3 separate regions of the Homo sapiens genome follow, and regions 1 and 2 are each linked to region 3. The links come from fine-mapping of genetic effects on gene expression. A gene starts in region 3. Each other region holds a variant in brackets. All regions are shown on one strand. Distances are from middle to middle. Region 1 overlaps PELI2 (pellino E3 ubiquitin protein ligase family member 2). Region 2 has its middle 140 kb from the start of PELI2. Region 3 holds the start of PELI2 (pellino E3 ubiquitin protein ligase family member 2).

Evidence for each region. PIP is the estimated chance that this variant, and not a neighbour inherited with it, causes the effect.
Region 1: its variant is fine-mapped to the expression of PELI2 in whole blood (TOPMed, PIP above 0.99).
Region 2: its variant is fine-mapped to the expression of PELI2 in tibial nerve (GTEx, PIP 0.99).

Annotation. Positions count from the first base shown.
Region 1 is chr14:56,298,052-56,306,238 of GRCh38, forward strand. It overlaps PELI2 (pellino E3 ubiquitin protein ligase family member 2), which reads left to right. Exons shown (of 6, transcript NM_021255.3): 6 at 1-3,473. Among named protein-coding and RNA genes, the nearest start is that of LINC02284, 8.8 kb to the right of the region's middle. The variant C/G (reference allele first, on the strand shown) is at 4,075.
Region 2 is chr14:55,970,239-55,978,425 of GRCh38, forward strand. No RefSeq gene overlaps it. Among named protein-coding and RNA genes, the nearest start is that of PELI2, 140 kb to the right of the region's middle. The variant T/C (reference allele first, on the strand shown) is at 4,136.
Region 3 is chr14:56,115,298-56,123,484 of GRCh38, forward strand. It overlaps PELI2 (pellino E3 ubiquitin protein ligase family member 2), which reads left to right and starts at 3,114. Exons shown (of 6, transcript NM_021255.3): 1 at 3,114-3,440. The coding sequence starts at 3,364. RefSeq lists an enhancer at 2,502-2,741 and silencers at 2,872-2,931, 2,972-3,231, 3,522-3,591.

The sequences.
Region 1 (8,187 bases), 180 kb after region 3:
AAAAATAAGCTTTTACTTTTTAAAACCACTTGAGGTTTCATAAAGCTTGGGGTTTTTTTTTTTCCTTTGTTAAGAAAGCCAACCAATCACAATGATATAGTCATTGTTGTGCACTCCCTTTTCACCATCTGTCACCTTCCCTTGCAGCTTAAGGAGCCCAGTAAGTTTTGAAAATGTTTGCGAATCAAACTAAATTTAAGTGGGATGATTAGATATACACAACACCAAGTGGTACATCTGCAGAGATAATTCAAAATTCCTGCTTTTGAGAGAGCAAATGAGTGTTGCTGAGGAATAATTAAATGAGAATTTCATAGGAGCTCCACCATTCCTGTTACTTTCATTTCATTTTGATTAATAATTCTTGGATGCTTGGCATCGATCGTATCACTGCTCCTAGAAGGTAAAGATCCTTTAGGACATGAGACTGGTAGAAGCTGGCTGAGATAAAATAAGTATTTATTTAAACTAATGTTCTCTTAATTTGACCATTGCAGATTTGGGTGACTTTTTTTTAACCTTTGTACATATACGTAATTTATATGATTCTAATGTACTATATCCATACTTGAATTGGTTTTTTCGTATTTTGCCTACTGGCAAATATTTTGCCTATTTTCAGTCGTTCTAACCTATTTGAATACGCTTTTCCTTAAAGTGATACGATAATATTACTCTTGATTGCTGCTGCTTAATTTGATGTAATATGTTTAAAGTTCAGCCTCTCAGTTTTAATATAGCTTTATTTTTCAGTGGAGATCATTGTTTAGGATGAGACATTTTTGGTTTTGGTTTTGTTTGGGTAAATTTTAAATGGTGTGAAAATCGATGACAACAGTCCTCTTACAGATAGCTTGCTGTATTCTGTATAGCTTACTCTACCTGCAGACAGAAAATGAAAGAAAAAAATGGACTTGCCTAGAATAATATATTGAATGCCTTTTGATTTAGCCAGAGTCTCTGATGATTAGCTTTCACTGATAGAGTATGTCTTTTCAGCCTGTAATTCTTTGGGCCCCAAAGAATGACAAAGGAGGCACTCGTTCTCTTTTCTTGCTGTATGCCTAGAAAGTGGTTGAAGGATTCTTGATGCCCTAAAACCATCTTGTAAGCTAAATGGTCTTGCATCCAGAAAGGCCAGATTTTACCTACCAAGAAAAAAAGATATTTTTCCAGAGAGTTAGGTATATCATAATTTTCCATTTCAAGTCCTGTTTATAAGTCTAGTCATTCTGCAACGTGACATATCCCCCAAAATGAAGTTACCTTCCAAGTTGGACACGTCCCGTAGTTGGGCATATGTCTAACTAAAAGTTTCTGACTTTTAGTAAATTCAGCTTAAATATAAGTTGAAATTTGGGAAATAATTTCCAAGCTCTTGGAAGGGGTAACAGTGAACCGCCCTCCATGGGCTCCACATCTTTTCCTTTGGCTTCCAAAGTCAGGTCCCGCCCACCCTGCCTAAGGAACTGCAGAGAGGTGGCAAATCAGCAAAAAGGACACCAGGCTCTTCTTGGCCACTTGTAGGAAGATCCCTTTACAATTTTGACTAAGGAGATTTTTTTTTTCACAGTTGAGTTAGTTTGTGAAAATAAAGAACTCTGTAGCTCACCAAGGTGGAGAAACGCAATTCAGAAAAGTAATTTCTCCAAGGTCACTTCTTTTTTTATGTCTTGCCATCACTTTAAAGGACTAGCCCCACTCCCCCATGTGTATACACAAGGAAATTGCAGACCAATTAGTTGTCTTGGCCTGACTCTAATGCCTTTTGCAAGTAGCTTTCCAGAAGTAAAAGTCCCAGTGATGTATTCCCATAGAAATATTTTTCAGTTGTTTATGTCGTTTACTACAAAAAAAAAGATTCAGAGTGGATGGAGTACAACTCTGAGTATTTTTCTAGTCCGGAATTTTTTATTAATAATCGGTGCTGCCGGGTCATGCATGCTGCAACTCTCAACATTTCCCTTATTTGGTTCAGCTTTTAGCAAAAAGGGCTACAGTTCACCCTGCAGAGTATTAAGGTTTCTGGATTTTTTTCTCCCAACTGTGGCCCAAAAGAATTAAAATCTGTTAATATAAATAGAGAACATATTTATCATTCCTCGATAGTTAATTATAGACTTTGGTACCTTTGTGCCTCAGGGAAGCCACGTGATATAACTGGTTATAGAATTTCAGGGTTAGGGTTTAAAGAAAGGAGAAAGCCATTGGAAAAATGATGGGCTCCATTAAGGAGACTAATGAATCTGGATGCAGAAATATGTCAGAAACTGGCATAAACATGATTGTAGTAGAATTTATTTTCCAGTACCAATAGGGAAATTATTTTAAGTTATTACATTTACTGTATTGGGAAACTTGAGGAGAACTCTTTAGTTCATAAAGCTTCAATGTCTTTTTTTTTTTTTTCATGGAAAAACTCAAACCTCTGTTATTTGGGAGCTCAGTATTGTGTGGACACTTACGAGAGTTTTCTGCTTAATTGAAGTGTAATATAGGTTGTAGAATTGTTACCTGCAGTTCTATGGTTTTGTTTCACTTCTTTTCTTTTTTAAAGCCATTCTGTTCTTTGGATGTGCTTGAAAGGGTGTGTGATTACACCATTGTTAATGCTGGGTAAAAACTATCTTCTTGCAGCCTTGCCTCATAACAGTGGAATTTCTGATAGACAAACCACAGGACTTTGATTTTAAGCCAAATCCATCTCCATCCCTTTACTGTCAATCTTCTGTCCCAGTAGTTTAGCCTTTGTGGCTTAGGTTATGATGCGCCTCCTTCTGTGCGACCAATGAGACGACTTCAGCATCTTTTTAAAATAATCTAAGCATCATTGAAGCAGTAACACAAAAAAAAGGTTCAGTATTTTCTTTTTAGTATAACTTACATCCTTTCAAATAAGTCTTTGCCCTCATGAAGAATCCCTAGAGGAAGATAAGGAAAATAAGTATTTTCCAGTTTTGCTTGACAGTTTCTAAACAAACAAAAATAAACTCAATGAAAGGAAAGATGTTTCTTTTTAGCTGAGATGACAGATTGCTTCTCTGTATTAAATAGTCTAGAAGTTAAGGGGATGGTCACATTTACCATGTATTGTGTTATTAGCAGTTAAATTTTATGAATATGTTTGTAAAATTGTTGTTTTATATTTCATGTCAAATTGAAAAGTTTATTTCTTCACTATTGTACCTGTGGAAATACAAGCCATTTTACAGGAAAAAATCTTCAAAAACTATTAAATGGATATCAGCCTGTTTGTGAGCCATTGTCTTCAGATTCTGTGGTTGTCACTGAGTTCATTAGGACATTTAGTAGGTTGATACGAGTAGAACTGATTTTTTTCACTTCTCTAACTTCCAAGTTAATCTCCAGCTGTTGAGTTTATTAATTGTTTTATATTCTGCACAATACATATTTAAACCTTGATTCTGAAAATCCCCTACATTTTTTAATTAAAGAAATTTCCTTGGTGCCTATATTACTATTTCTCGTGACATTACATCACTGTCAAATAAAGTTAACTTCCAGGGGAATTTAACCTGACTTGTAGAATTAATGGATTTTTGTCATGATCATTTCAGCCATATTGCTGCTCTTGTGACAGTCTTCATTCACTTTTAACAACATAATAAGGATTGTGTATAAGCCTTCAAGCCTTCCTTGAAGCCTTAAACTAATATATCTATCATAAGAAAATGTATATATTTATGACAAATTTTGTTCTCATCACATTGATATTCAAAGAGTTTTAGTATTATTGAGAGAAACAGATTTTTCATTTCCAGAAAAAAAATGCACATTTATATAGGCTTTTATTTCAGGGGATAAGTGTTCCATACTTTGTCAAATCTAAGATGCCACGAATTGTGAGATGTGTTATAGAAAATCACAACTGGTTATAATTGTAAGTTACATTCCATTGGGCAAGGAATACACCTCACACAGCATACAAACATTAAATCAAAATGGGTCAAAGAGCTACAACTATAGAACTCTTAGAAGAAAACATAATGTAAACCTTTGAAAACATAATGTAAACCTTTGTAACCTTAGATTTGTCAGTGATTTTTGACATAC[C/G]AAACGTAAAAACACAAGCAACAAAAGAAAAAAGGCCAGGCACAATGGCTCACGCTTGTAATCCCAGCACTTTGGGAGGCCGAAGCAGGCAGATCACTTGAGGTCAGGAGTTCAAGACCAGCCTGGCCAGCATGGTGAAACCCCGTCTCTGCTAAAAATACAAAAATTGGGCGTGGTGATGGGCGCCTGTAATTCCAGCTGCTTGGGAAGCTGAGGCTGGAGAATCGCTTGAACCTTGGAGGCAGAGGTTGCAGTGAGCCGAGACCGCACCATGCACTCCAGCATGGGCGACGAGCGAAACTCCGTCTCAAGAAAAAAATAGAAAAAATATATAACATTGGGTTTCATCAAAATTAAAGTTTTGTGCATGGAAGGACGCTGTCAAGAGAGTAAAAAGACAACTCACAAAATAGAAAATATTTAGGGATTATATATTTGATAAGGAACTTGGGTCCAAAATATGTAACAGGCTCTTACAACTCATCAAAATGCAACCTCTTTAAAAGACGATCAAAAGTTTATAACTTTTCAGAACATTTTCCAAAGAATGTATTAAATGGCCAGTAAGCACATAAAAACATGGCTCGACAATTAGCCATCAGGGAAGTGCAAATTAAAACCACACAATACCACGTTATACCCACTAGGATGGCTAAAGTCAAAAAGACAATAATGAATGTTGGCATGGATGTTGAAATACACTCATAAATTGTTGGTGGGATTGTAAAATGATGCAGCTGCTTTGGAAAAAATAGTTTGGCATTCCTCAAGAGGTAAAATGTATGTACAGTTACCATGTACTCCAGCAATTCCATTGCTAGGTATATACACAGAATTGAAAACATGTTCACACAAAAATAGGTACATGAACGTTCATAGCAGCATTATTGGTAATAGCCGAAAAGTGGAAATAAATGTCCATCAGCTGAAGAATGGACAGACAAAACATGGTATATCCATACAATGAAATATTATTTGACAATAAAAATGAAGTACGATATTGATACATACAACATAGATGAATCTTGAAAACATGTTAAGTTGAAAAAGCCAACATATTATATGTAACATATTGTATGTAAGAAATAGGCAAATCCACAGAGACACAGAGTAGATTCATGGTTGCCAGGAGTTAAGGAAAGTGGAATAAGGAGTGATTACCAGTAGACATGAGGCTTATCTGGGGGAAGATGAAAATGTTCTAAACAGTGGTGATGGTTATACAACTATGTGAATATGTGAATGGACCAAAACCCACTGAATTATACACTTAAAAGGGTGAGTTTTATAGTGTGTGAATTAACATCTCAATAAAAATTAAAAGAAAACATGCATCCTAAATTCAGAGATGTTAGATTATGAAGAGTTTGTGTCTTAGAAACCACCATGCTATGATCTTTACTTAGTCCTTCAGGTAAAAATATTCAGGATTATCCAGTTTCTTGCTGCCTTGAGATGTTTTCCACAATGTGACAACATAGCTCAATTTCCTTACACTTTTACTTGTCATTAAATAAAGTGAACATCATATAACCAAACACCACCTGTTTAAAAAAAAGAGAACATACACATAAGTCTTCCAAAAAAAAAAAAAAAAAAACCACCAGACAACTCATATTCTAAAGGATCTACCTAAGATTTTTTTTTTCTTTTTTTTGAGACAGTGCATTACTCATGTATTTGTGGTGATGCTAGTATGCTAGTGTACACAAGCCCACTGCACTGTGATATAAAAGTATAGCACATGCAATTAGTACAGTACATATTTGATAATAACTATGTTATTGTACTTTTTATAGTTATTTTAGAATATACTCCTACTGTATAACAGGTTAGCTGTAAAAACAGGAGTTCTTCAGCTCCATCAGGATCTTATGGGCTCACCGTCATATATGCAGTCCATTATTGACTGAGGCATTGTTATGTGGTGCATGACTCTGTCTTTCTGAACTTAAAATAAGAATTTTAAATTGGATGTCGGTAGCAGGAATGTGTCTGAGGCTTGCAAAATGGGGCCGTGCTTCTTATGGCTGCGGAGCTGTAAGCCTGAACAAACTGTTTTCAAGCTGTTGTGCCGCCCAGAACACCCACTGCTAATTATGGGATGTGCATTGGAGTGCCCAAATGGACCATTCTTAAGCATCACTTCCTTCTTTTGTCTTCTAAACAGGTTCTAGTTGAAGAATACCAAGGTTATTCTTGTTAGCTAAAAGAAGTATAATGAGTTCTTTCTTGCCTAATTTCAGGTTTGAACTTAAGCTTACATCAGAATTTCCTGAGGTTTGCTTAAAATGCAGACTCCTTAGCTGCGTCTACAGAGGCTGATGTTGTAATTTTCTAGGTTTCTCTCCATGAATTTTCACTTTGGACAGACAACCTAGATGATGTTACAGGTGATCCATGTTCTATACTTTGATAAATTCTTCTTCGGCTAAATGATTGTATTGACTGTATGCCTCTGCTGTGCAAGTTACTAAATTCCCATTGTGCTCATTGGTTTTGGCACATCCAATGTGGTTTCCTGGGAACTTGAGGCATGTGGCCCCACATGGAGATGGGAATGGATGGCCTAGCCAAACAAGGGCCCTTCCTGCCCCGTCAGTCTAGCTGCGATTTTCTCTTAGGTGAATGGATCTGACTCTCTTAACTCCTTTGCCTCTTTTCTAAACTTGCATTCCCCATCCTTTGCCATTGGTTTTTAGTTCGTGCCTTTAACCATTTCCACTCTACAGGAGAACAACCTCCAGAAATTTTCAAACTGGTTTGAAAGAGTTCAGTGTTAAGGATGAGGTTTTTTTGTACATAGTGCGGGAAGCTTGCTGAATTCTCAAAATTTTCATTAACCTGATAGAAACTTGCTGTGGGTAAGCAAACTGGGTGTCATCAGGGCATATTTCACAGGCTTTGGGTTCCTATCATCTAGTGATGTATTCGTAATAAAACTGGGAAAGGAACTTTTTTTAATTTCAGAGTTTGATTTCTGTATACATTCTGGAAATGTTCTGCTGTTTGGATTCATTGAGTTCAAGTATTTCCTTATCTATAAAATAGAGGTGATGATAGTGTTTCTACCCCTTAGAGATGTAGTCAAATCAACATAATACAGGCACTATGGTTATATAGTAAGTGCTCGCTAAATGATAGTTGCTTATATTATTCCCTTGCGGTAACATTACCCAAAGCGTTTTCTTTAAATTTTGAGTCCCAGAAATTCTCTGCAAAAAAAGTCATATAATCTTATAACTCTGAAAAATAATCTACTGTATCCCAAATTCATTTGACTGCAGACTTTCTTTTTTCTCCCCATATAAGGTATTTTGAATTCTTCGTGAATGCTAAAATTGATAGAATTTAGCTATTGTGGAACTATTGCCATACATTCTCAAAATTTATTTTAAATGAAAACAGATAAGCATGAACCCAATGTTATTGCTATTCATGTGGTTCTAAACCCTAATCTTCACAGAAAAATACTGTTACTCCTTATGCAAAACTCTGTATCACAGCCTCTATGACTTAAAACAGTTTAATATGGTATTACTGATGACCATGGAATAACTTTATTTTATGAAAAGAAAGACATAGCAAATATACTTGTGACTACATATTTGAAAACGCACTATAAGACTATTGACAATTAATGCACCACCCTTTCAGTTGGTAGATGTTTCTCAATTTTAAATATATTTATTTTTATGATATTGAAGCCCTATTCTGTTATTAGAATTAGTTTATTTATTTGGAATAATTCACTTCTTGGATTGGATGGATGCCAAGCTGGATTATTACCCTAGGCTGCTGATGGAAAGCATCCAAAAGTTTTACCAGTTCTTTTGTTAGTTTCTTGTATAGGGTAAGAATAAAAACTCATTTAAATTGCCATAATTTATGCAATGAAACCCAATAAACTAGCCAAATTTCAAGTTCCTGCCTTCCATCAACATTTCCATTAGATGAAAACTCCTTCTTTATCTAAACCAATTGATGGTAGTTAGATCTTTTAATGGATTTGATTCTCTACTTAACATTCATGAGTCTTTAGGATGAAAACTGCTTCAGAAAATGAAGATTTCAATGACTAGTTTAGTCTGAATCATCATGGCTGAAATTAGA
Region 2 (8,187 bases), 150 kb before region 3:
ATATGATTATATTTTATTATAATATACTATACATTGTAAATGGTATATTGCAATATATATTATTACATACATAACAATTCTTTTATTATTATATAAATATTATTGTTTATTACCAAATGCCATTGTGAGGGTCAGAGGTCAATCAGGCATGGGTTCTATCATTAATGAAATGTCCATAGCTATAGGAGCAACATGACAGAGCTACAAATAACTACAATGCAAGGTCAAGCATATGCTCTGGGAGGTCAGAGTATGGAAAGCTTCTGACTAGGAAGGTTGGGGAAGTGCTAGAAGGTGATTTTTGAGATGGGCTCTGCAATATGGGTTATATTCACACTTATGGAAATGAGAAAGAGGGCATTCCAGGCAAGGGAAATGGTTTGAGAAACAGAAAAGAAAACTACACTTTGGTGGATATCCACCGGGTGCCAGAATTTTGCATATGTTATGTCACTTAATTCTTATAAGAGCCCCATGGAGTGGTATTGTTGTTTGTCCCATAACCACCTTGAACTCAAAATGTCCAAGCTGAACTCATCACTTCTTTCTGCCTCCTCTGGCTCCAGCTCCCTTGTGTCCTGTGTGTCTGTCTCAGTTAATAGCATCACTGTCCATTCTGTTGCCCAAACTTGAGTCCTGCTCATGATTCTTGCCTCTCCCCACTCCGCCCATCAGCATCATCCAGCCCTGTTGATCCCAACCTCTAAACATCCCTGGAGTCCACCCACTTTCCTGGTGCCTGGCTGCCTTGTCCCTGGTCCAGGCCACATGATCTTTCATGCACTATTGCAACCACCTTCTGCTAGCTGGCATTGCTGCTCCTGGTCTTACCCTCCCACCCATTCTCATCCAATCCATTCCCCACACAGCAGCCAGAGAGATCCTTGTAGGATGCAAACTGGGTCACATTCTTCTGATTAAGACCCTGTGATTGCTCTTCATTTCCCTTCAAATAAAGTCCAAATTCTTGAACAAAGCTTAAAAAGCCTTCATAATCCAACCTCTGCTTCCTTCTCCAGCCTCATTTGGGACCATTCTCCATTGCACCTCCAGCCTCCAGTTACTCAAAGTCTTTCAGTTCTCTCCTCTGTACCTCCCTCTGACTGCCCACCACTCACTGGACCAGCACCCAGATTGAGCAACTCCCCTATCCCTCCACTCCAACCCAGAGGGTGAGCTGCAGAGCTACAAGAACTAAGTCTCTTTGTTCACCAATAAGTATTTTTTAAATGAATGCATTGATTTTAAAAACTGGGGCTCAGAGGGCTTTAGTTACTTTTCTGAGGTAAAACAGTTAGTTAAGGGCAGAGTTGGGGATCTGAACAAATCTGTCTGTATCCAAATCTAATGCTTTTCTCATAGCATCATGGTGTCTGTCATACATGGGTAAGTGGGAGGCACTCAGGAATTCACTTTGCCTAGATCACAGCATGCATATAAGAGAGGACTAGGAAACAAAATGGGAAATCATATTGCAGGCCTAATCATATTGTATATGGCCTTGTGCCCTAGGGTAAGGAATTAGGACTTTATTCCACAGACTCTGGGGAATCATGGATGATTTGGGGCAAGAAGTGACAAGAGCAGAGTAATTAGGTTTCCTTATGCCTTCCAAAAGTGAAAGAGAGGGCAGAGGAACAGAAGAAGAATTTGGGGCTTTTTGCCATGACCTTCACTTATAAAATAACACCACTTACCTTGTATGACTTTTGTGAAAATGAAAATAAATATGCAGGTAAAAATGCTGTGTAGCCATCTTCCTCTTAATACATGTCACTGTGGTTTTCTTTCTCTTAATGTTTGTTAAAGGGGACGCAGACATTTGTAGCTGCTTCTAGAAGACACTGAGTGGACCCTTTGGGAAGTCACTCTCTGGAGGTGGTGCTGAGAATGTAAATGAAGCTTTCCGGCTCCTGGGAAGTTATAGACTTGTTCTTGGAGGCAAGAGAAGCCACAGACTGGAGCAGCTGAAAATTTCCCAAGTGATAGACTGGGGCAAGGGACAGGCAAGGTGGAAGGTACAGCTGTAATGAGAGATGCCCCAGGAGGAACAGTTGCCAGAAGACACTGCTGGCAGCCCCTGTGAAGGGGAGCAGCTGGAAACCAGCATTGGGAGCAGCATGGAACAGCATGAAGAGGGGGCTCTGGCTTGGGCTGGCCCCAGCCTGATTTTCCCTGGGGGGAGGGGAGGGCTGTGCTAATTATCTGCTCAATATCAAGACGGCACCTGGAAATAAATATTTTGTTGTAAATAATAATGATAACTATTTTCATTATTATTCCATTGACTGAAGAGAGGAAAAGACAAATCCAAAGCCCACCAAGTCTGTCTGTGAAATTGCACCTGAAAAAGGTGGTAGATATAATTCCCATCCAGTTAAGGCACAAATTAGCCTGTAAGAACAGCTCCCTCAGCCCAGAGAGTTTTGCAGGTGGTCATGAAAGTGAACTTGGGACTTAGGTTATCCAAGGAAGGCCTGCTGAAAGGATGATTTTTATGTACTTTTCTTTGGAATCACTGTTTGGAAAAGGGCGTAGTGGTGTAGCAGGACAAGCTGCAGACAAAACCCCTCAGACACTGAGTTGAAGGAAGGGCTTTATTCAGCCGGGAGCTTCGGCAAGACTCACGTCTCCAACAACCGAGCTCCCCGAGTGAGCAATTCCTGTCCCTCTTAAGGGCTTACAACTCTAAGGGGGTCCGCGTGAGAGGGTTGTGATCGATTGAGCAAGCAGCGGGTATGTGACTGGGGGCTGCATGCACCGGTAATCAGAACGGAACAGAACAGGACAGGGATTTTCACAGTGCTTTTCCATGCAATGTCTGTAATCTATAGATAACATAACCGATTAGGTCAGGGGTCGATCTTTAACTACCAGGCCCAGGGTGCGGTGCCGGGCTGTCTGCCTGTGGATTTCATTTCTGCCTTTTAGATTTTACTTCTTCTTTCTTTGGAGGCAGAAATTGGGCATAAGACAATAGGAGGGGTGGTCTCCTCCCTTAGTGGAATGTGCAAGATAGGAGTTATTGTAGAAGCCCCAGTGGCCTGGGTCAAGGCCTGGACTTGAGAGGAATGCTTGCAGGTTTTCTGCCACCTTTAACAGGTTACATTTCCAATTGGCATTAAGAACTGCATACAAACTTAGAGAAACCAACTTTCAGGAACAGGAGATTAATTTTCTCTTCTTGCCTTCCCTAGCACAATAATGCATTCTGCAAATACCTGGTGGGTTAATTGACTGGAACCCTCTAAACTGCATTTCCTATGGCTCAGCTCTGGGCTACAGGTCTTCCTGGGAAATTATTAAGCAGGTGAGGTAGAAATGTACGGAAGTAGAGGTCAAACGTTCTGAGTTCTTTTCTCAGCTCTTCTAAGAATAAACTGATATAAATGATGTCTACAACTGACCAGTTTTCCCTATGGCACTCAACGGTTTTTTTTTTCTCACATCTTGGCAATGAATATGACTCATCCAGTGTAACAGGTCCTCATAAGTAAAAGCTGAACATATAATTTTGACCAAAACTCGTGTAATTTTTCAAAGAATTAAGTTTAATTCATTAGCAGGGAGAAAATGTTGTATGTGGGTGCCACAGGCTAGATTTTCTTAAGTTACCTATGAAAAGATGATATAAATGGAGCTGATTTAAAATTACCTATATCTGAGAACATCCCAAACAAACGTTGGTTTAAAATGATTCTTTCAGTTGAATTGGACTCTTTTGCAAGTACAACTGAGAGAACTGCCCTTTAATTTGGATCTAGTTTAAATTATTTAATGAATCCCCTTTCTCACTTAATTGGACATTAGGTTTAAGAATGAATGAAAGTGCTTCATGTGCCACATAATAGCTAAACACTGTCTGGCAAGCAGCAAAACCAGCTGACATTCTTGAAGAGATGGATCAGTGGTCTGGTCTCAACCTCAGGCCTGGGAAAGCCATTAACCAAACAACTTAAGTTTCATTTTTAATTTAATGCACTGTGTTTAATGCAAAATGTATGGGCATCTTGCGAGGCAGTGTGCTCAATTGTGGGGAATGGCTGTCATCCCAGTGGGTTTATCTTGCAGGCTTGTGGGGCTGCTGTTATTTCCTGGTGGGTGTCTAAGGGAGGAGGCAGGAGAATGCAGAGAA[T/C]GTGGGGAAATGAAGACTTATGAAGCAGTCCTTTGATTAGATTCGAACAGGCTTCTTTATCCTGTGTGTGTTAGGCTCTGGTGTGCCCTGAAGGAGACTGTGAGTGAGGCTGTGGGTGAAATGCCACACTGGTCCTTGCTGGCTTTGAGACTGCTGGGTCATTGCAGGAATCCAGGAAACAGAATTCAACAGACTGCTGTGAGACACTGATAAAGTTATAGAAATGCCACCCTGAGAAAGGGAGAAAACAGGAGTTCAGAAGGAAATCCACTCTGGATGCTCACCAGGACCACTTTCCAGAGTCTCTGCCCTCACCCAGCACATATTTCCTGGGTGCCTACTATGTGCCAAGCACCAGGCTAAGGTCCTTGGCCTGCAAAATCTTAGTTTTGGTAGATATAATTCCTATCCAGTTAATTAAGGCCACGTTAAAATTTGTAAGTCTTAAGATACACAGAACATTCAGTGGAGACATGAGGAACAGTGTGACTAAATATTGGGGACATCAACTTAACTCATTGCAGCAAACATATGTCACATACCTGTAACATGTTAAGCTCTGTGCAAGGTGCCAATGACAGGCAAAGCAAGAGCAGACCTTACCTGCATGGGCCAGAAAGGGCTTGGAGGAAGTTTACATGTTTAGATTAGAGACATAACTTGAGTCCCATTATGGAGGAAGACCCAGAGACTTGGGAAAATGTAGAATGCTGAGATAATCACAGGAAATTCTGAGAGAGAGAGGGAGAAAGAGATAAGTAGAGAGAGATTAGGTAGACAGATGGCAGTAAGGAAGTTTCAGGCAACAATGCAGGAATAGAAGGATGTTTGAGGCCATCTTTGTAGCTTTCTTTGTAGTGCTATGCCACTGAGTTTTGGTTTTTATCTTGTAGGAGCTGGAAGCCAATGTAAGGTTCAAACAGGGGGATAACTTGAGCACATCCACATTCTAAAACAATTACTCTGGCACTCAAAAAGGAGAAAGAGTGTATCACAAGTTACTGGAGCCGGTGGAGGGGAGCGTTCAGAAAGGCAGCAGTTAACCATTGGAATTGTCCCAGAAAGGTCAAGAAGGGCAATGACTGAAAATAGGCCACTGGATTTGGCAAAGAGGTCAATGGGGCCTTGTCCAGAATGGTGCTCTGGTGGCAACTGGATGACCCTGGCTTAAAGAGTCATTTTCAGGGAAGCAAAGCAGAGGCCCTAATTGTTCAGAATATAGTAGCTTTCTTGTGGTTGTTCTCCAGTCCAGTGAATGTGGTTTGCTTTGTAAGGAAGAAAACCCAAGGAGTGCAGGAGTCCTGGTGGCTCACTCATACCATCAGTTAATATAATGGCCCATGACAGCTGGACTGTGATGTGGGTTGTGTTGCCGCATGGTTTGTCCTTTAACCATGAGGACACAAGCGGCCTCTGGGGCAGCCTTTATTTAGCTCAGGGTCTTTTTCTCCAACTTGGGCTGCCAGCTTTCCTGAGTTTGTTGAGATTATCCTGATTTTTGAGTTTTCAGGATGCAATTTAAAAATAGGAAGCGTTATCGTCATTCCTATGTCCCCAGTTACATTTGTCATCTTCTGAAGATGAGCCTGGGAACACCCTGAGTTTTTTTTTAATTATTTGTTTATTTATTTATTAATTTTTTGAGACAGAGTTTTGCTCTTGCTGCCCAGGCTGGAGTGCAGTGGTGTGATCTCAGCTCACTGCAACATCCACCTCCCAGGTTCAAGCGATTCTCCTGCCTCAGCCCCACAAGCAGCTGGGCCCACCACCAGGCCCATTAATTTTTGTGTTTTTAGTAGAGATGGGGTTTCACCATGTTAGCCAGGCTGGTCTTGAACTCCTGACCTCAGGTGATTCATCCCCCTTGGCCTCCTGAAGTTCTGGGATTACAGGTGTGAGCCACCACACCCGGCCTCCTCCTTGAGTTTGGATGGGGCAGGGAGGAGCTCTGAGCGCTGTGACAAATCGCTGATAACCCATTGGAAAGTCTATAAAGGTGGAGTCACACCCCAGGGACCCTATCCAGTGGTTGCCAGTTCTGTTTCTCCACCCAGTGATAGAGCCAGACTGTTTTTATGACACTGCAATCCAGCCAACTCTTTGCTATAATCAATGTTTCCATTCTTTTCCAAAATAAACATGTGGACGGTCATTTGCAAACAGGGAAATGAAAGTTTTCCATCCCTAGGTGCAGTGCATATATTTTCGCAAACAAAGAATTTAGAAAAGGAATGTAATCTAATCTCTGGTGACTTTGAAATATGTCTGGGGCATTATATCTTGGAAGGTAATTTGTTTCTTTCATTTAGATTCAGGTAAATTCCCCCACCCCACCCCACCCCAACCCCCAACCTCCTTTCTGGCTTTGTACAGAATTGTCAAGCAGAATGGCTTAAAGACAATAGGACCTTATTGTATCACGTTTCAGGAATGAGCAATGAGGAAACAGGAGCCAAGCCTGGAAATGAACATGTCCTTGTAAATGACCAAGAGAAGATAGGAGTTAAAATATGCAACTGTTATGGTGCCAGAAAATTGCCTGCCCTCTTTGAACGGACCGGTGAGTGCTATTTTGCATTTATATCAGGTTTTAAAAATAATAAATGCAATTCTTCCTGCTAAAATGACATGTAATTTCATAACTACTTTGAAGACAGCCCTACCTTTTTGTATTCAAAGAAATGAACAGCTTAATGCCCTAAAAATCCCAGATATCAAACCTGTTTAATGTAAACAGATTTTGTTTAGTCTGAGTGATTGTTGATTTTATTTCAGAAAGAAATGACTGATTAAGAGTTGTGCAGGTGTCATGATCATAGCTTACTTCTTGTTCACTGGGGATGTCAGAGGCAGCCATGCTGTTTATGTATCCACTGAGCTAAATTAGTACCGTTATCACTTCAGTAAAGCTCAGATATTACTGTGTTCTCTGCTAAAGAAACCAATTACAGTATCTGCTGGATGGTATATTAAATGACACCATTTAATTAAAGCCTAATCTCTCTCCGAATGAACAATATTTAAAATTATTGTACGTTATTTCATTCAATTACTGCAAACCTCTGTCCATTTTTAAGCACAGAAAAAACTCATTTGGCACCCTGACAGCCAAGAAGAAGAATTGCTGTTTTGTGTTGTGTTTGGTGCTGAGAGCCCAGTAACAGTCAATCCAGGACACGCATCAGTTCATGAGCTCTTTTAGTTTTAAAATATTTCAGATTTGTTTCTCAGGCCTCTTGGCAGCCAAAGGCCCTATTCTACAATTGCCAGGTCTCCCTCCAAGGACTGGGGTATAATGGAGATCTCTAAAAAGAATATGTTTAGATGAATAAAGCCATTAAAGAAATACAATTCCCATGCCAGGAGCCAAGCTATGTAACTGACAGGATAGCAATTCATTTAGAATGAATATCTCATAAGGGAATGCAAGAATTAAAATGGACATAACAGTGAACTCAAGAGATTACCTGCAATAGAAAGGAAAATTCACTTGTTTGAGGGAGAAATGAGTTAAAAAGATGTAACTACTAAGAAAAAGAGATGGGGGGAGCCAAACGTGAATGGACTCTCATTCCCACTAGTCATTTAATTTAGCCATGGAGAAATGTTGGCGCACATTTAGGTGGCAGAGCACAGCAGCCTCTAGCCAAGTAACAGTATGTTGCTTCTTTAGCTTTATCATATCAAAGAATATGGTGCATGGATTGAGTGTGTTTATCAGTCTATTGGCTCATTAATAAGATCCCAAGAAAGATAAATATTAATAGCAATGATGCATCCCACATAGTGGAAATGGACTCCAGAACCCAGACTGTGGGTGAGAAGGTTGGAACTCAACCCTAGGCTCTAGCACCATGACTTGCTCACAGGAAGTCCTCTGCCAATGTCTTCCGGTTCCCTGAAGACATAATCTTGATGTGTGAATTTAATGGCCCAAGGCGAAACCGATCTATTTCTTTTGGCCAGTCCTTGATAGGTGCGGCCTGTTGGAGTCCACGTTCAGACCTAGGGAACGGTGGTGGTCAGTGATGGCTATAAAGATGACCAGTGTA
Region 3 (8,187 bases):
TAAATCTTTTGATTTTAACAAAACAGGAAGACACAATTGGGGAAAAGTCAAGATAAAGCCTTACATTATTTATTTGTATAGTAAGCATATGGCCTCTGGTAGCCCAAGAAATAGCACAGACTCCCTCTGGGATGATGTGGGCGGGTCATCCTCTTCAAGAGAGTGGTCTGGGGTGAGGGACATAAATGGAATGGCAAGCAGAGAGAGCAGGGAAGGGTCTGCCCTGGCAATCAAGTCAGCCAAGCCCACCCTGGCTCTTAGTGGGTTGGCAGATGGCACAGCCAGATTGTCCCACCAGCCTGGAGCAACTCACTAAAACAATTACATTCAAGAGAGGATAAATCCATGCTACAATCAGATTCTTAATATTAACTGGGGATGATGGGGTCATGTCCTAATTGGTTTAAGTTGTGAGCAAATAACTCTGATAAGAGATGCACAGAGAAAGTCACACGCTGGCTTCTTTAGGAACACAAGCCATCAACGCTCTGAGAAAATCAAGTTAACACCCCTCACCACTCTGCCATCCCCCCAGCCCTACCATTTGATACCATTTGAGAAGTGTTTTTACCTTTACTCATGTCTGTTTCCTTGAAATCAGAGAAAGCAACTGTGGGGACCTTGGGTACATAGAGTCTAGAAAAACAGACATAGTTTTGATGGGCTCATGCTGTGTTTCAAGAAAATTGAAAGTGTGAATGAGTTGCCAACAGTTAAAAATTGAGAGGTTTGGTGTAATCAGGATTTGAGGCTTTTAGAAAAATTACATCTAGCAAGAGTGAACTGTCATTGTCACATGGCAACAATCAGCTAGAGATGAGTGACAGATAAGCCCTGTAGACGGCACAGACCCTACCAATGTGCCACAGTCCTCACTCAGCCCATTTGCTCATTTGGATTTCCATGCCTGGTCCCTGTATGTATTCTTGACTGTGATCAATAGAATTGCTCTTACCAGTCAGAAGCTTTCAGGGCTCAGAGTGATTCACAGAGCTGATCTAGCCTTGAGCTGCCTAGGATAAAAAGCCTCCATTGACACAAAAACTCATTCACAACAACACTTCCTGTAAGTCAGTCTGATAAAGACAGACCTGATTAAGTACTATAAACATTCTCAAAGACATGTTGGGAGAGTAGAGAGACATGTCCCTCTGGAAGTCAGGGGTGCCACAGGCAGATAGCTAGACGGGGGGGCCTTGGAAGATTGGGATATCCTATGGGAAACTCTCAGCCTAGTGCTGGGAACTTAGTAGGAGGTTAATACATATTTCTTTCTATCTTCCTAAGAGCAGATGCGAAGCACAGCAAGGAGGAAATGCAGCCAGAACAGTATAATGCAATGCAACGCACACAGGCACAGCAGGCCAAGAGAGAAGGAAGGAGGTAATGGTAGCCTAGAGAGCAGAAGCAGCAACAGAGGAGGCCTAGAGAAGCTAGGGTGACAGAGGCAGGCATCATCGTAATCGTGACGGCGCAACTGCAGAATGATTCTGACAGATCTTTGATAGTCATACAATCTATGTGGTAAGTAGATGCACAGAGTACATGAAGACAACATTAATCCAGCAGAAATTTGAAAGAAATTTACATCAACACTGGGGAGGAGACATGATTTATCCCTTTAGTGAAGGAGTGCTGGTTAAAACTGTAACAGATTTTTTATTACATATAAAAAATATAGAGAATACGTAATATATGCAGAATAACTAATATTCATTTGAAATACAGAATTTCTATAGTTAGCTGAAATAAGTTAACTGTTTAATAAAGTTTATTTTTGGCTTACCAGTGGTGTGGCTTTAGTTACTTTGGAATAATTTATTTCTAAAACCTCAATTAAAAAAATCAGTTCCTAACTGAAGTAAAATTATCAGAAACATCATGTCACTACCGTAATAACCTGTCAGAGAATGTTACACAAGGGGTGCAGCACAGCGGAATGGAAGGTTACAGATGCAATTATTATTTTTTCTAGCCCTTTGCTTCGGGTCATAGCCAACCAGTCACTATACACAGGGTAGCTTCTGCAGTATTTATTTCTTTAAATATTTAACAGTGTTGAGAGGCAATGACTCGCAATAATATGTAGAGTTTCTAGCACATTATGAGTGCTTAATAAATGTTAGAACAATAAAATCCTGTATGATGAAAAACAGCAGTCAGTAAAACTATACAGTCTACGATATTTTAAAGCCATAGCAATAACTAGTTTAAAAAGAATAGAAAGCAAACAGTGCATTGATTAAATCACGGTCATAAAGGAACATTTACGTTCACTAAAAAGTCCACCCAGGTAATTTCCCCTTGTATGTATTAGGGGATGGAAAGAAGGCACAGGAAAAGTGGATAAAGTATGGATTAAAAAACAACTCTTCCCCCATCCCCCCGCCACCCCCCAAAAGCCAGGTGGAGCTCTATTGACCACAAGCCGGGGTAGCTACATCCAGTGCAACGGTGGGGTGCTCCAAGCGCCTTCGAAACGTCCTCTACGCCAGCACCAACTGGCAAAACCTTCTAATTTTCTAGACGCCTTTCTGCTTGGTTTTGGAAGGGGAGGCACCCAAGTGGGTGTGTGCGACACCTCTAGTTGTAAGCCGGGACACAGTGACGTCGAGAGAGCGCTATTCTACTCGGAGAGGAAGTTAATCCCATCGAACTCCAGCCAGGAAAACGTGGGCTTGGGAACCGCGGCCGCTCGTTTCCAGGATCTCCCGCGGGCCTTCGCGGCTGAAGAACCAGGCGGCGAGGGCTGAGGACCCCGCGCTCTAAGTTTGGGGAAGGAAGTGAGGAAAAAAAACAGAGCTGCTCCTTTAAGAACTTCCTTTCCCTTTTACTCTATGTTTACATAACACAGGGGCCGAGCCTCCGCCGGGCCGAGGGGGGCGGGGAGTGGGCGCGGACGGCCCCACGCGCCGGGGGAGGGGGCGCCCCGCGGGCCGGGGGCGGGCGCCTGGCTCTGCGTGGGGCGGGGCGGCTCCCACCTGCCCGCGCGCTGGCCCCCGCCTCCCCCGCGCGGCCCCAGCCTCTCGTGCGCCCGCTCCCTCCTCCTTCCCTCCCTCCCGCGGGGCTTCGGCGGCGGCGCTCAGCGCAGGCAGGTCCCCCTGCTGCCGGGTCCCATTTGTTGCCGGCTCTGACTCGGGGCGGCCGCGGCGCGCGGAGCTCCGGGGAGTCAGGCGGAGCAGCCGCGCAGCCACGACGGAGCAGCAGCGGGACTGGCCGCCCCGCGCCCCCTTCGCCGCCGTGCCCTTCCCCGGCGCGCTCACCCCGTTCTCGGGATGGGATTGTAGCGGCGGCGCGGACTCGGCGGGGATCGCGGCGGAGGCGGCGGCGTCGGCGGCGGCGTCGGCGGCCGAGCGGGGCTCCATGTTTTCCCCTGGCCAGGAGGAACACTGCGCCCCCAATAAGGAGCCAGTGAAATACGGGGAGCTGGTGGTGCTCGGGTGAGTCCTGGGGTCCCTGGTCCCGGGCAGCGGCGCGGGCGGGGAGCGCCCGCATCCTGGAGCGGGGCTGGCGGGGTGGCTCGGTGCTCTTTGGGGACCGCCGGGGCGCTCGGGGCGGCAGGAGAGGCTCTCAGGGCCCGGACGGCGGCGCGGGGGCGGGATGCGCCCCATCGGCGCGCGCTCGGGGTGCTGCGGCGGACGCCGGGCTGCGCTGTCCGCGCGGAGGACGCGGCGGAGGAAGTGGCCAGAACTCGGGCGACCCAGCGGGGGCAGCGCCGGGCACCGGGTCCGCGGCCGTATCGTGGGGGCGGGGGCAGGGGCTCCACTTCCCGCGCGCCGCGTCCGGGCCGGGGAGGGCGGGCAGGGACTCCATGTGAGGCGCCGCGGTCGCGGGCGCTTCGCGGGGTCGCTTCCCGAAGCTGAGAGGCCGGCCGGCGCGGAGCCCCGTCTTCCCACCTCCCTCGCGGACCGTGGTACCCGCGCCCCCGAACTCCGAGCGCGGCGCCGTGAGCTTGGGCCGCCGCGGGCTGTGGGATCCCCGGCTGCGCTTTGCAAATTGTTCCGATGACCGCCGCGGGCCGCCGCAGCCCGAGAGCAGTGAACTGTGTGTGACCCGGGCCGGCCGGCCCTCCGCTTCTCCCCGCTTGGAGTGCTCTGGAGGGGAGGGACAGGATGCGGCTGCTCGGGGCCTGGCACCGGGGCGCGGGCCGTATCCCCCCGGTCCCGGCCTCGCTGATGCCCTCCCGGCTGCGGGGAGCTCGCCAGCCTCGCCCGCCTCGGCTCCCTCTCTGCTGGTGAAAGCCGCATCTTGAAGATAGTAATTATGTACAATCGTTAAACGGCAGCAATTAGAGACTTCATCTACTTCCTGAGTTTCCTTGTGACATTTCTATTGTTTACCCTTAATAAGCCAGGAGAGAGGCTTTGCGGGCTTAAAACTGGATATAGTGGGCAGTGAAAGGGGAGGGGGAAGGGGGAAGTGCAGGAAACTGGGGGGAAGGAACAACTTGGGTTTAGTGTTGAAGAAAGGATTATTTTTTCCTTTGGATGTGTCGCTCTGGGAACCCGCGCTTTTGTCCTTCTGCGTTGAAAGACCTGTATTCAGAACATCCTCGGCGCTGATAGGTAGGCTTAGCACACATATGAGGAGTCATGGCTGTGGGAAGACTCAGGGAACTTTGCAAAACGTGTTTTGATAAGTGAGTGCCTTGAAGTAAGTGCTGACTTAAAAATAATTTAAAGAGAGGAGTTTTTGAGGGAAGCTTCCAGACACCGCACAACTCAAAGCTTCCCAGTCTTCCTGACTTTGTTGCTAGTGCATTAAGTGGGGGTGGTATTGGAAATCTCATTACCTATTTTGAAGCTGTTTGCAGATAAGTGTTTTTCTCACCTACATCTTAATTGCACTTCAAAGACAAATATCAGGGTTCACAGGAAGGCGGGAGGAATGACAGGAGAAAAGCCGCAGTTTAGTCTGTCTTATGTAACTTCAGCCCAACCTAATCTTGTGGAGTTTGGTTTTGTTTGTGTGGCTGGCTTCAGTGTGTTTAACACTGTGAACTTGACGCGGAAGATTAACGTATGCCAGAACTTTATTTCATTATTTCCTTTTGAGGAAATCATTGTTGAGATGTTTCAGAAAAGCAGCGAGTGGGCCTGGAGAGGTTTTGTGTTCATAGCTGGAAGTGCAGGGCATTCCGAAGCCACGGAAAGGATTGAAACCCTGGATTGTCCTAGTATCATAGTCTCACTCCACAGGAGCCCGGGATATAACGTTGCAGTTGCATATGGTCTGCCCTTTGCTAATGCTTTTCCAGGAGACCAAAGTATGACATAGTTGGCACTTAGGGGGCGAGACACTCAACCGTCGTTTGTGTACCTACTCTGTGCCTGTGCTGTTTAGGCATTGCTGATGCAGTGAGAACAGGGAACTTTCCTTTTAGAGTGGAGTGACAGGCATAAACAGAAAGAAACATGCAAATAGAGGAGTAATAAGTGACAATTTCAGGTGCAGCCAAGTTCTGAAGAGGAGTTGATAAACTTGGAGAGTGACTGCTTAGGTGGGTATTGGTTTCTTCGGCTGGAAGGTGAGGGAAGTTCTCTCTGAGGAGGTGAAATGTGAGTAGAGGATGCTAGTCTGGTTTTTGAATACTTGAATTGTGGTATTTTTCTTTTTTCGAGGGTAGGTTTCTGACTGTTTACCAATGTTGAACACATTGAAGAGTGCAGGTGAAAGAGTGACTAGGTAGGAAGATTTTTAGAGAGAACCTTATTCATATTCCACCCTTAGGATTTGAGACAGTGTACTTCATCTTAAAACAACAATAACATTCACATAGAATTAATATCATCTTTATGATATTATCTTTATGTCCTCTGGGGTATAAATATTGGAAAACAGAAAATTTCAAGTAGATTTTCTGAATAATGAGATGATTCCTGAGATCTAAAAATGCCTAATATTTGGTATTGATAGAAGCTTTGCTTGTCAAATTCAGTGCTTTTTTTTTTTTTAATGGTTATGTGACTGTCCTTTTTGCTCACTTTCGAATGTCATAGTGAAACATTACTAGGAAATCCTGGAGAGCAGAATGAAGAGCTGATAGATGTCTATATCCATATCTAAATACTTCTATATCTTTTTGTGTGTTACACAGTATTATTAAGAGATTCCACATAGCTAGGATTTTAGTGAGCTCATCACTTTCTGGGCTGATTAGTGGAATTTAATTATTTCATGATTCCAGCCAGTTAATGTATCATAGCCACAACTCTTTGTTGTGTCCACTACTTAACTGAAGGTAGAGAAAAATGACTGGTCTAACCAGCAGGTCTTTTTGCTATAATTTTAAACTTACGTTTTAAGGTTAGGGAAGTGGCTCAGGATTTGAGAGGCAGTTTGGTATAGTGGGAAGAACATGCATTTACAGGTGGGTGACCTGAATAAGCCCTTCTCTCTTGCTGACTGGCTCTGTGACTTTGGCTTAATTCCTCCTCCTCCTCTCTGTTTCTTTATCAATTTGCAAAATATGATTGGATTAGGTAGGCTTCAAGAGCCCTTCCTGGTCTGTGCTCAGTAATTCTGTTCATTGGCGCAAATGTAGAAACTATTTAGTTACATATTCTAAGTTCCCTGACAGTTGTTTTAATAGCAGAAAAGATCAATGCTGTGGTTGTTTTTTATGAAGATGTGCGTAAAAACAGAATGTTTAAAAAAGTTGTAATGATATACATCTGTTTGACTCATTGGTGTTAGGTTACCCATGGGAGCATTTAAATTGTGTAAAACTTTATGTTCCAAGTTTAAGAAAGACAGTGATGTTTTGAAATTTAGCTAAATAGACTGAAATAACCAGCATAAAGAGGAGATGATCTCATGATAAAAATTTAGAACTGAATAGCATTAGGGGAAATTCCTAATGTAGATGATGGGTTGATGGGTGCAGCAAACCACTATGGCACGTATGTACCTATGTAACAAACCTGCACATTCTGCACATGTATTCCAGCCTTAAAGTATAATAAAAAAAAATTAGGACTGGAAGGGGGCCTAATGGTCATGGTATATGTTTAGCCCTTATATTTTATTCTTGAGGACACAGGCTCCCAGAACAAGAGAGGTTCAAGTTCATAGTTGATCTGGGCTGAGCTGGGTGGCTGTACTCCCCTACTCTACCCTTTCCTCACTTTAAGACAGATTCCAGCAGCGCTGTCAGTTCCTCAAAGCATCCTTTCTGGATTCAATTTGAAGCATGTGGCTCTCTTGCTGACTAATGGCCCATGGTGGTTTTTGGAAAAATATTGCTTACTCTCTTAGTTCCTCTCACCTCACAGTTGAATGGATAATGCATTTTGCAAGACTTTTTTTTTTTCTTTTGATGCTTCACAAAATGTATTTTTATTGGCTCTCTCAACCAAGGGTTCTTAACCTAGGGTCCACAGATGGAGTTCGGGACATTCTTGAACTTAGATGGGGGAAAAACATGTCTTGATTTTCATGATATTCAAACTGCAGTTTAGCATTTTCATTCACTTATGAGTGTAGGCAACAAAAAGACTTGCTGCTAGATTTTGTTATTTAATGCATTATTACAGAAGTGCACATGTGTATAGCAATTTAAGACTTTTGATATTTAAGTATAAGTGATTCCAATTGTAATCCTTTGTATTTTATTTTGTATGTTTAAAAACATTAGTCTGAGAAGGGCTCATTACATGTCATCAAACTGCCAAAGGGATTCTTGGCACAAAAAGAGGGTAAGAACCTCTACAAATGAAAATTTATAAATATGACTAAATATGACTGAAAAATGAAGTATTTTAGTAGAAATTGATAAGCTCTACAAAAGGAGGTAGATACCTGCCTCATTTCCTTTGGATGATTCAGTGTTTTGTTAGGTAAGACAAAGAGGGGTATAGTAGCTTGTAGAGTTTATGGTCTTTTTTTTTTTTTTAAAAGCAGGTCCCACTTTCTGTATGCTTTTTGTTGTTGCTGTAACCTCAGCACTTTGCCTTGACTACTCCACCCTTTGGTGGCAATAAGAAACCTTCAAATATACCCTAACACTTTTCCTTTTCTCATCCTCCACTCTAATTTGGGCCCAAAGACATCAAACATTAGTATCTTTTATAGACTAAAAGGTCTTTGAACTTTAAAAAAATTTATAAAACAAAATCTTTACTGTAGCTCAGCATGTGGGGTGATCTGAAGAGCTCAGATCTGTTTGTGTGGATGGAGTGTCTAATT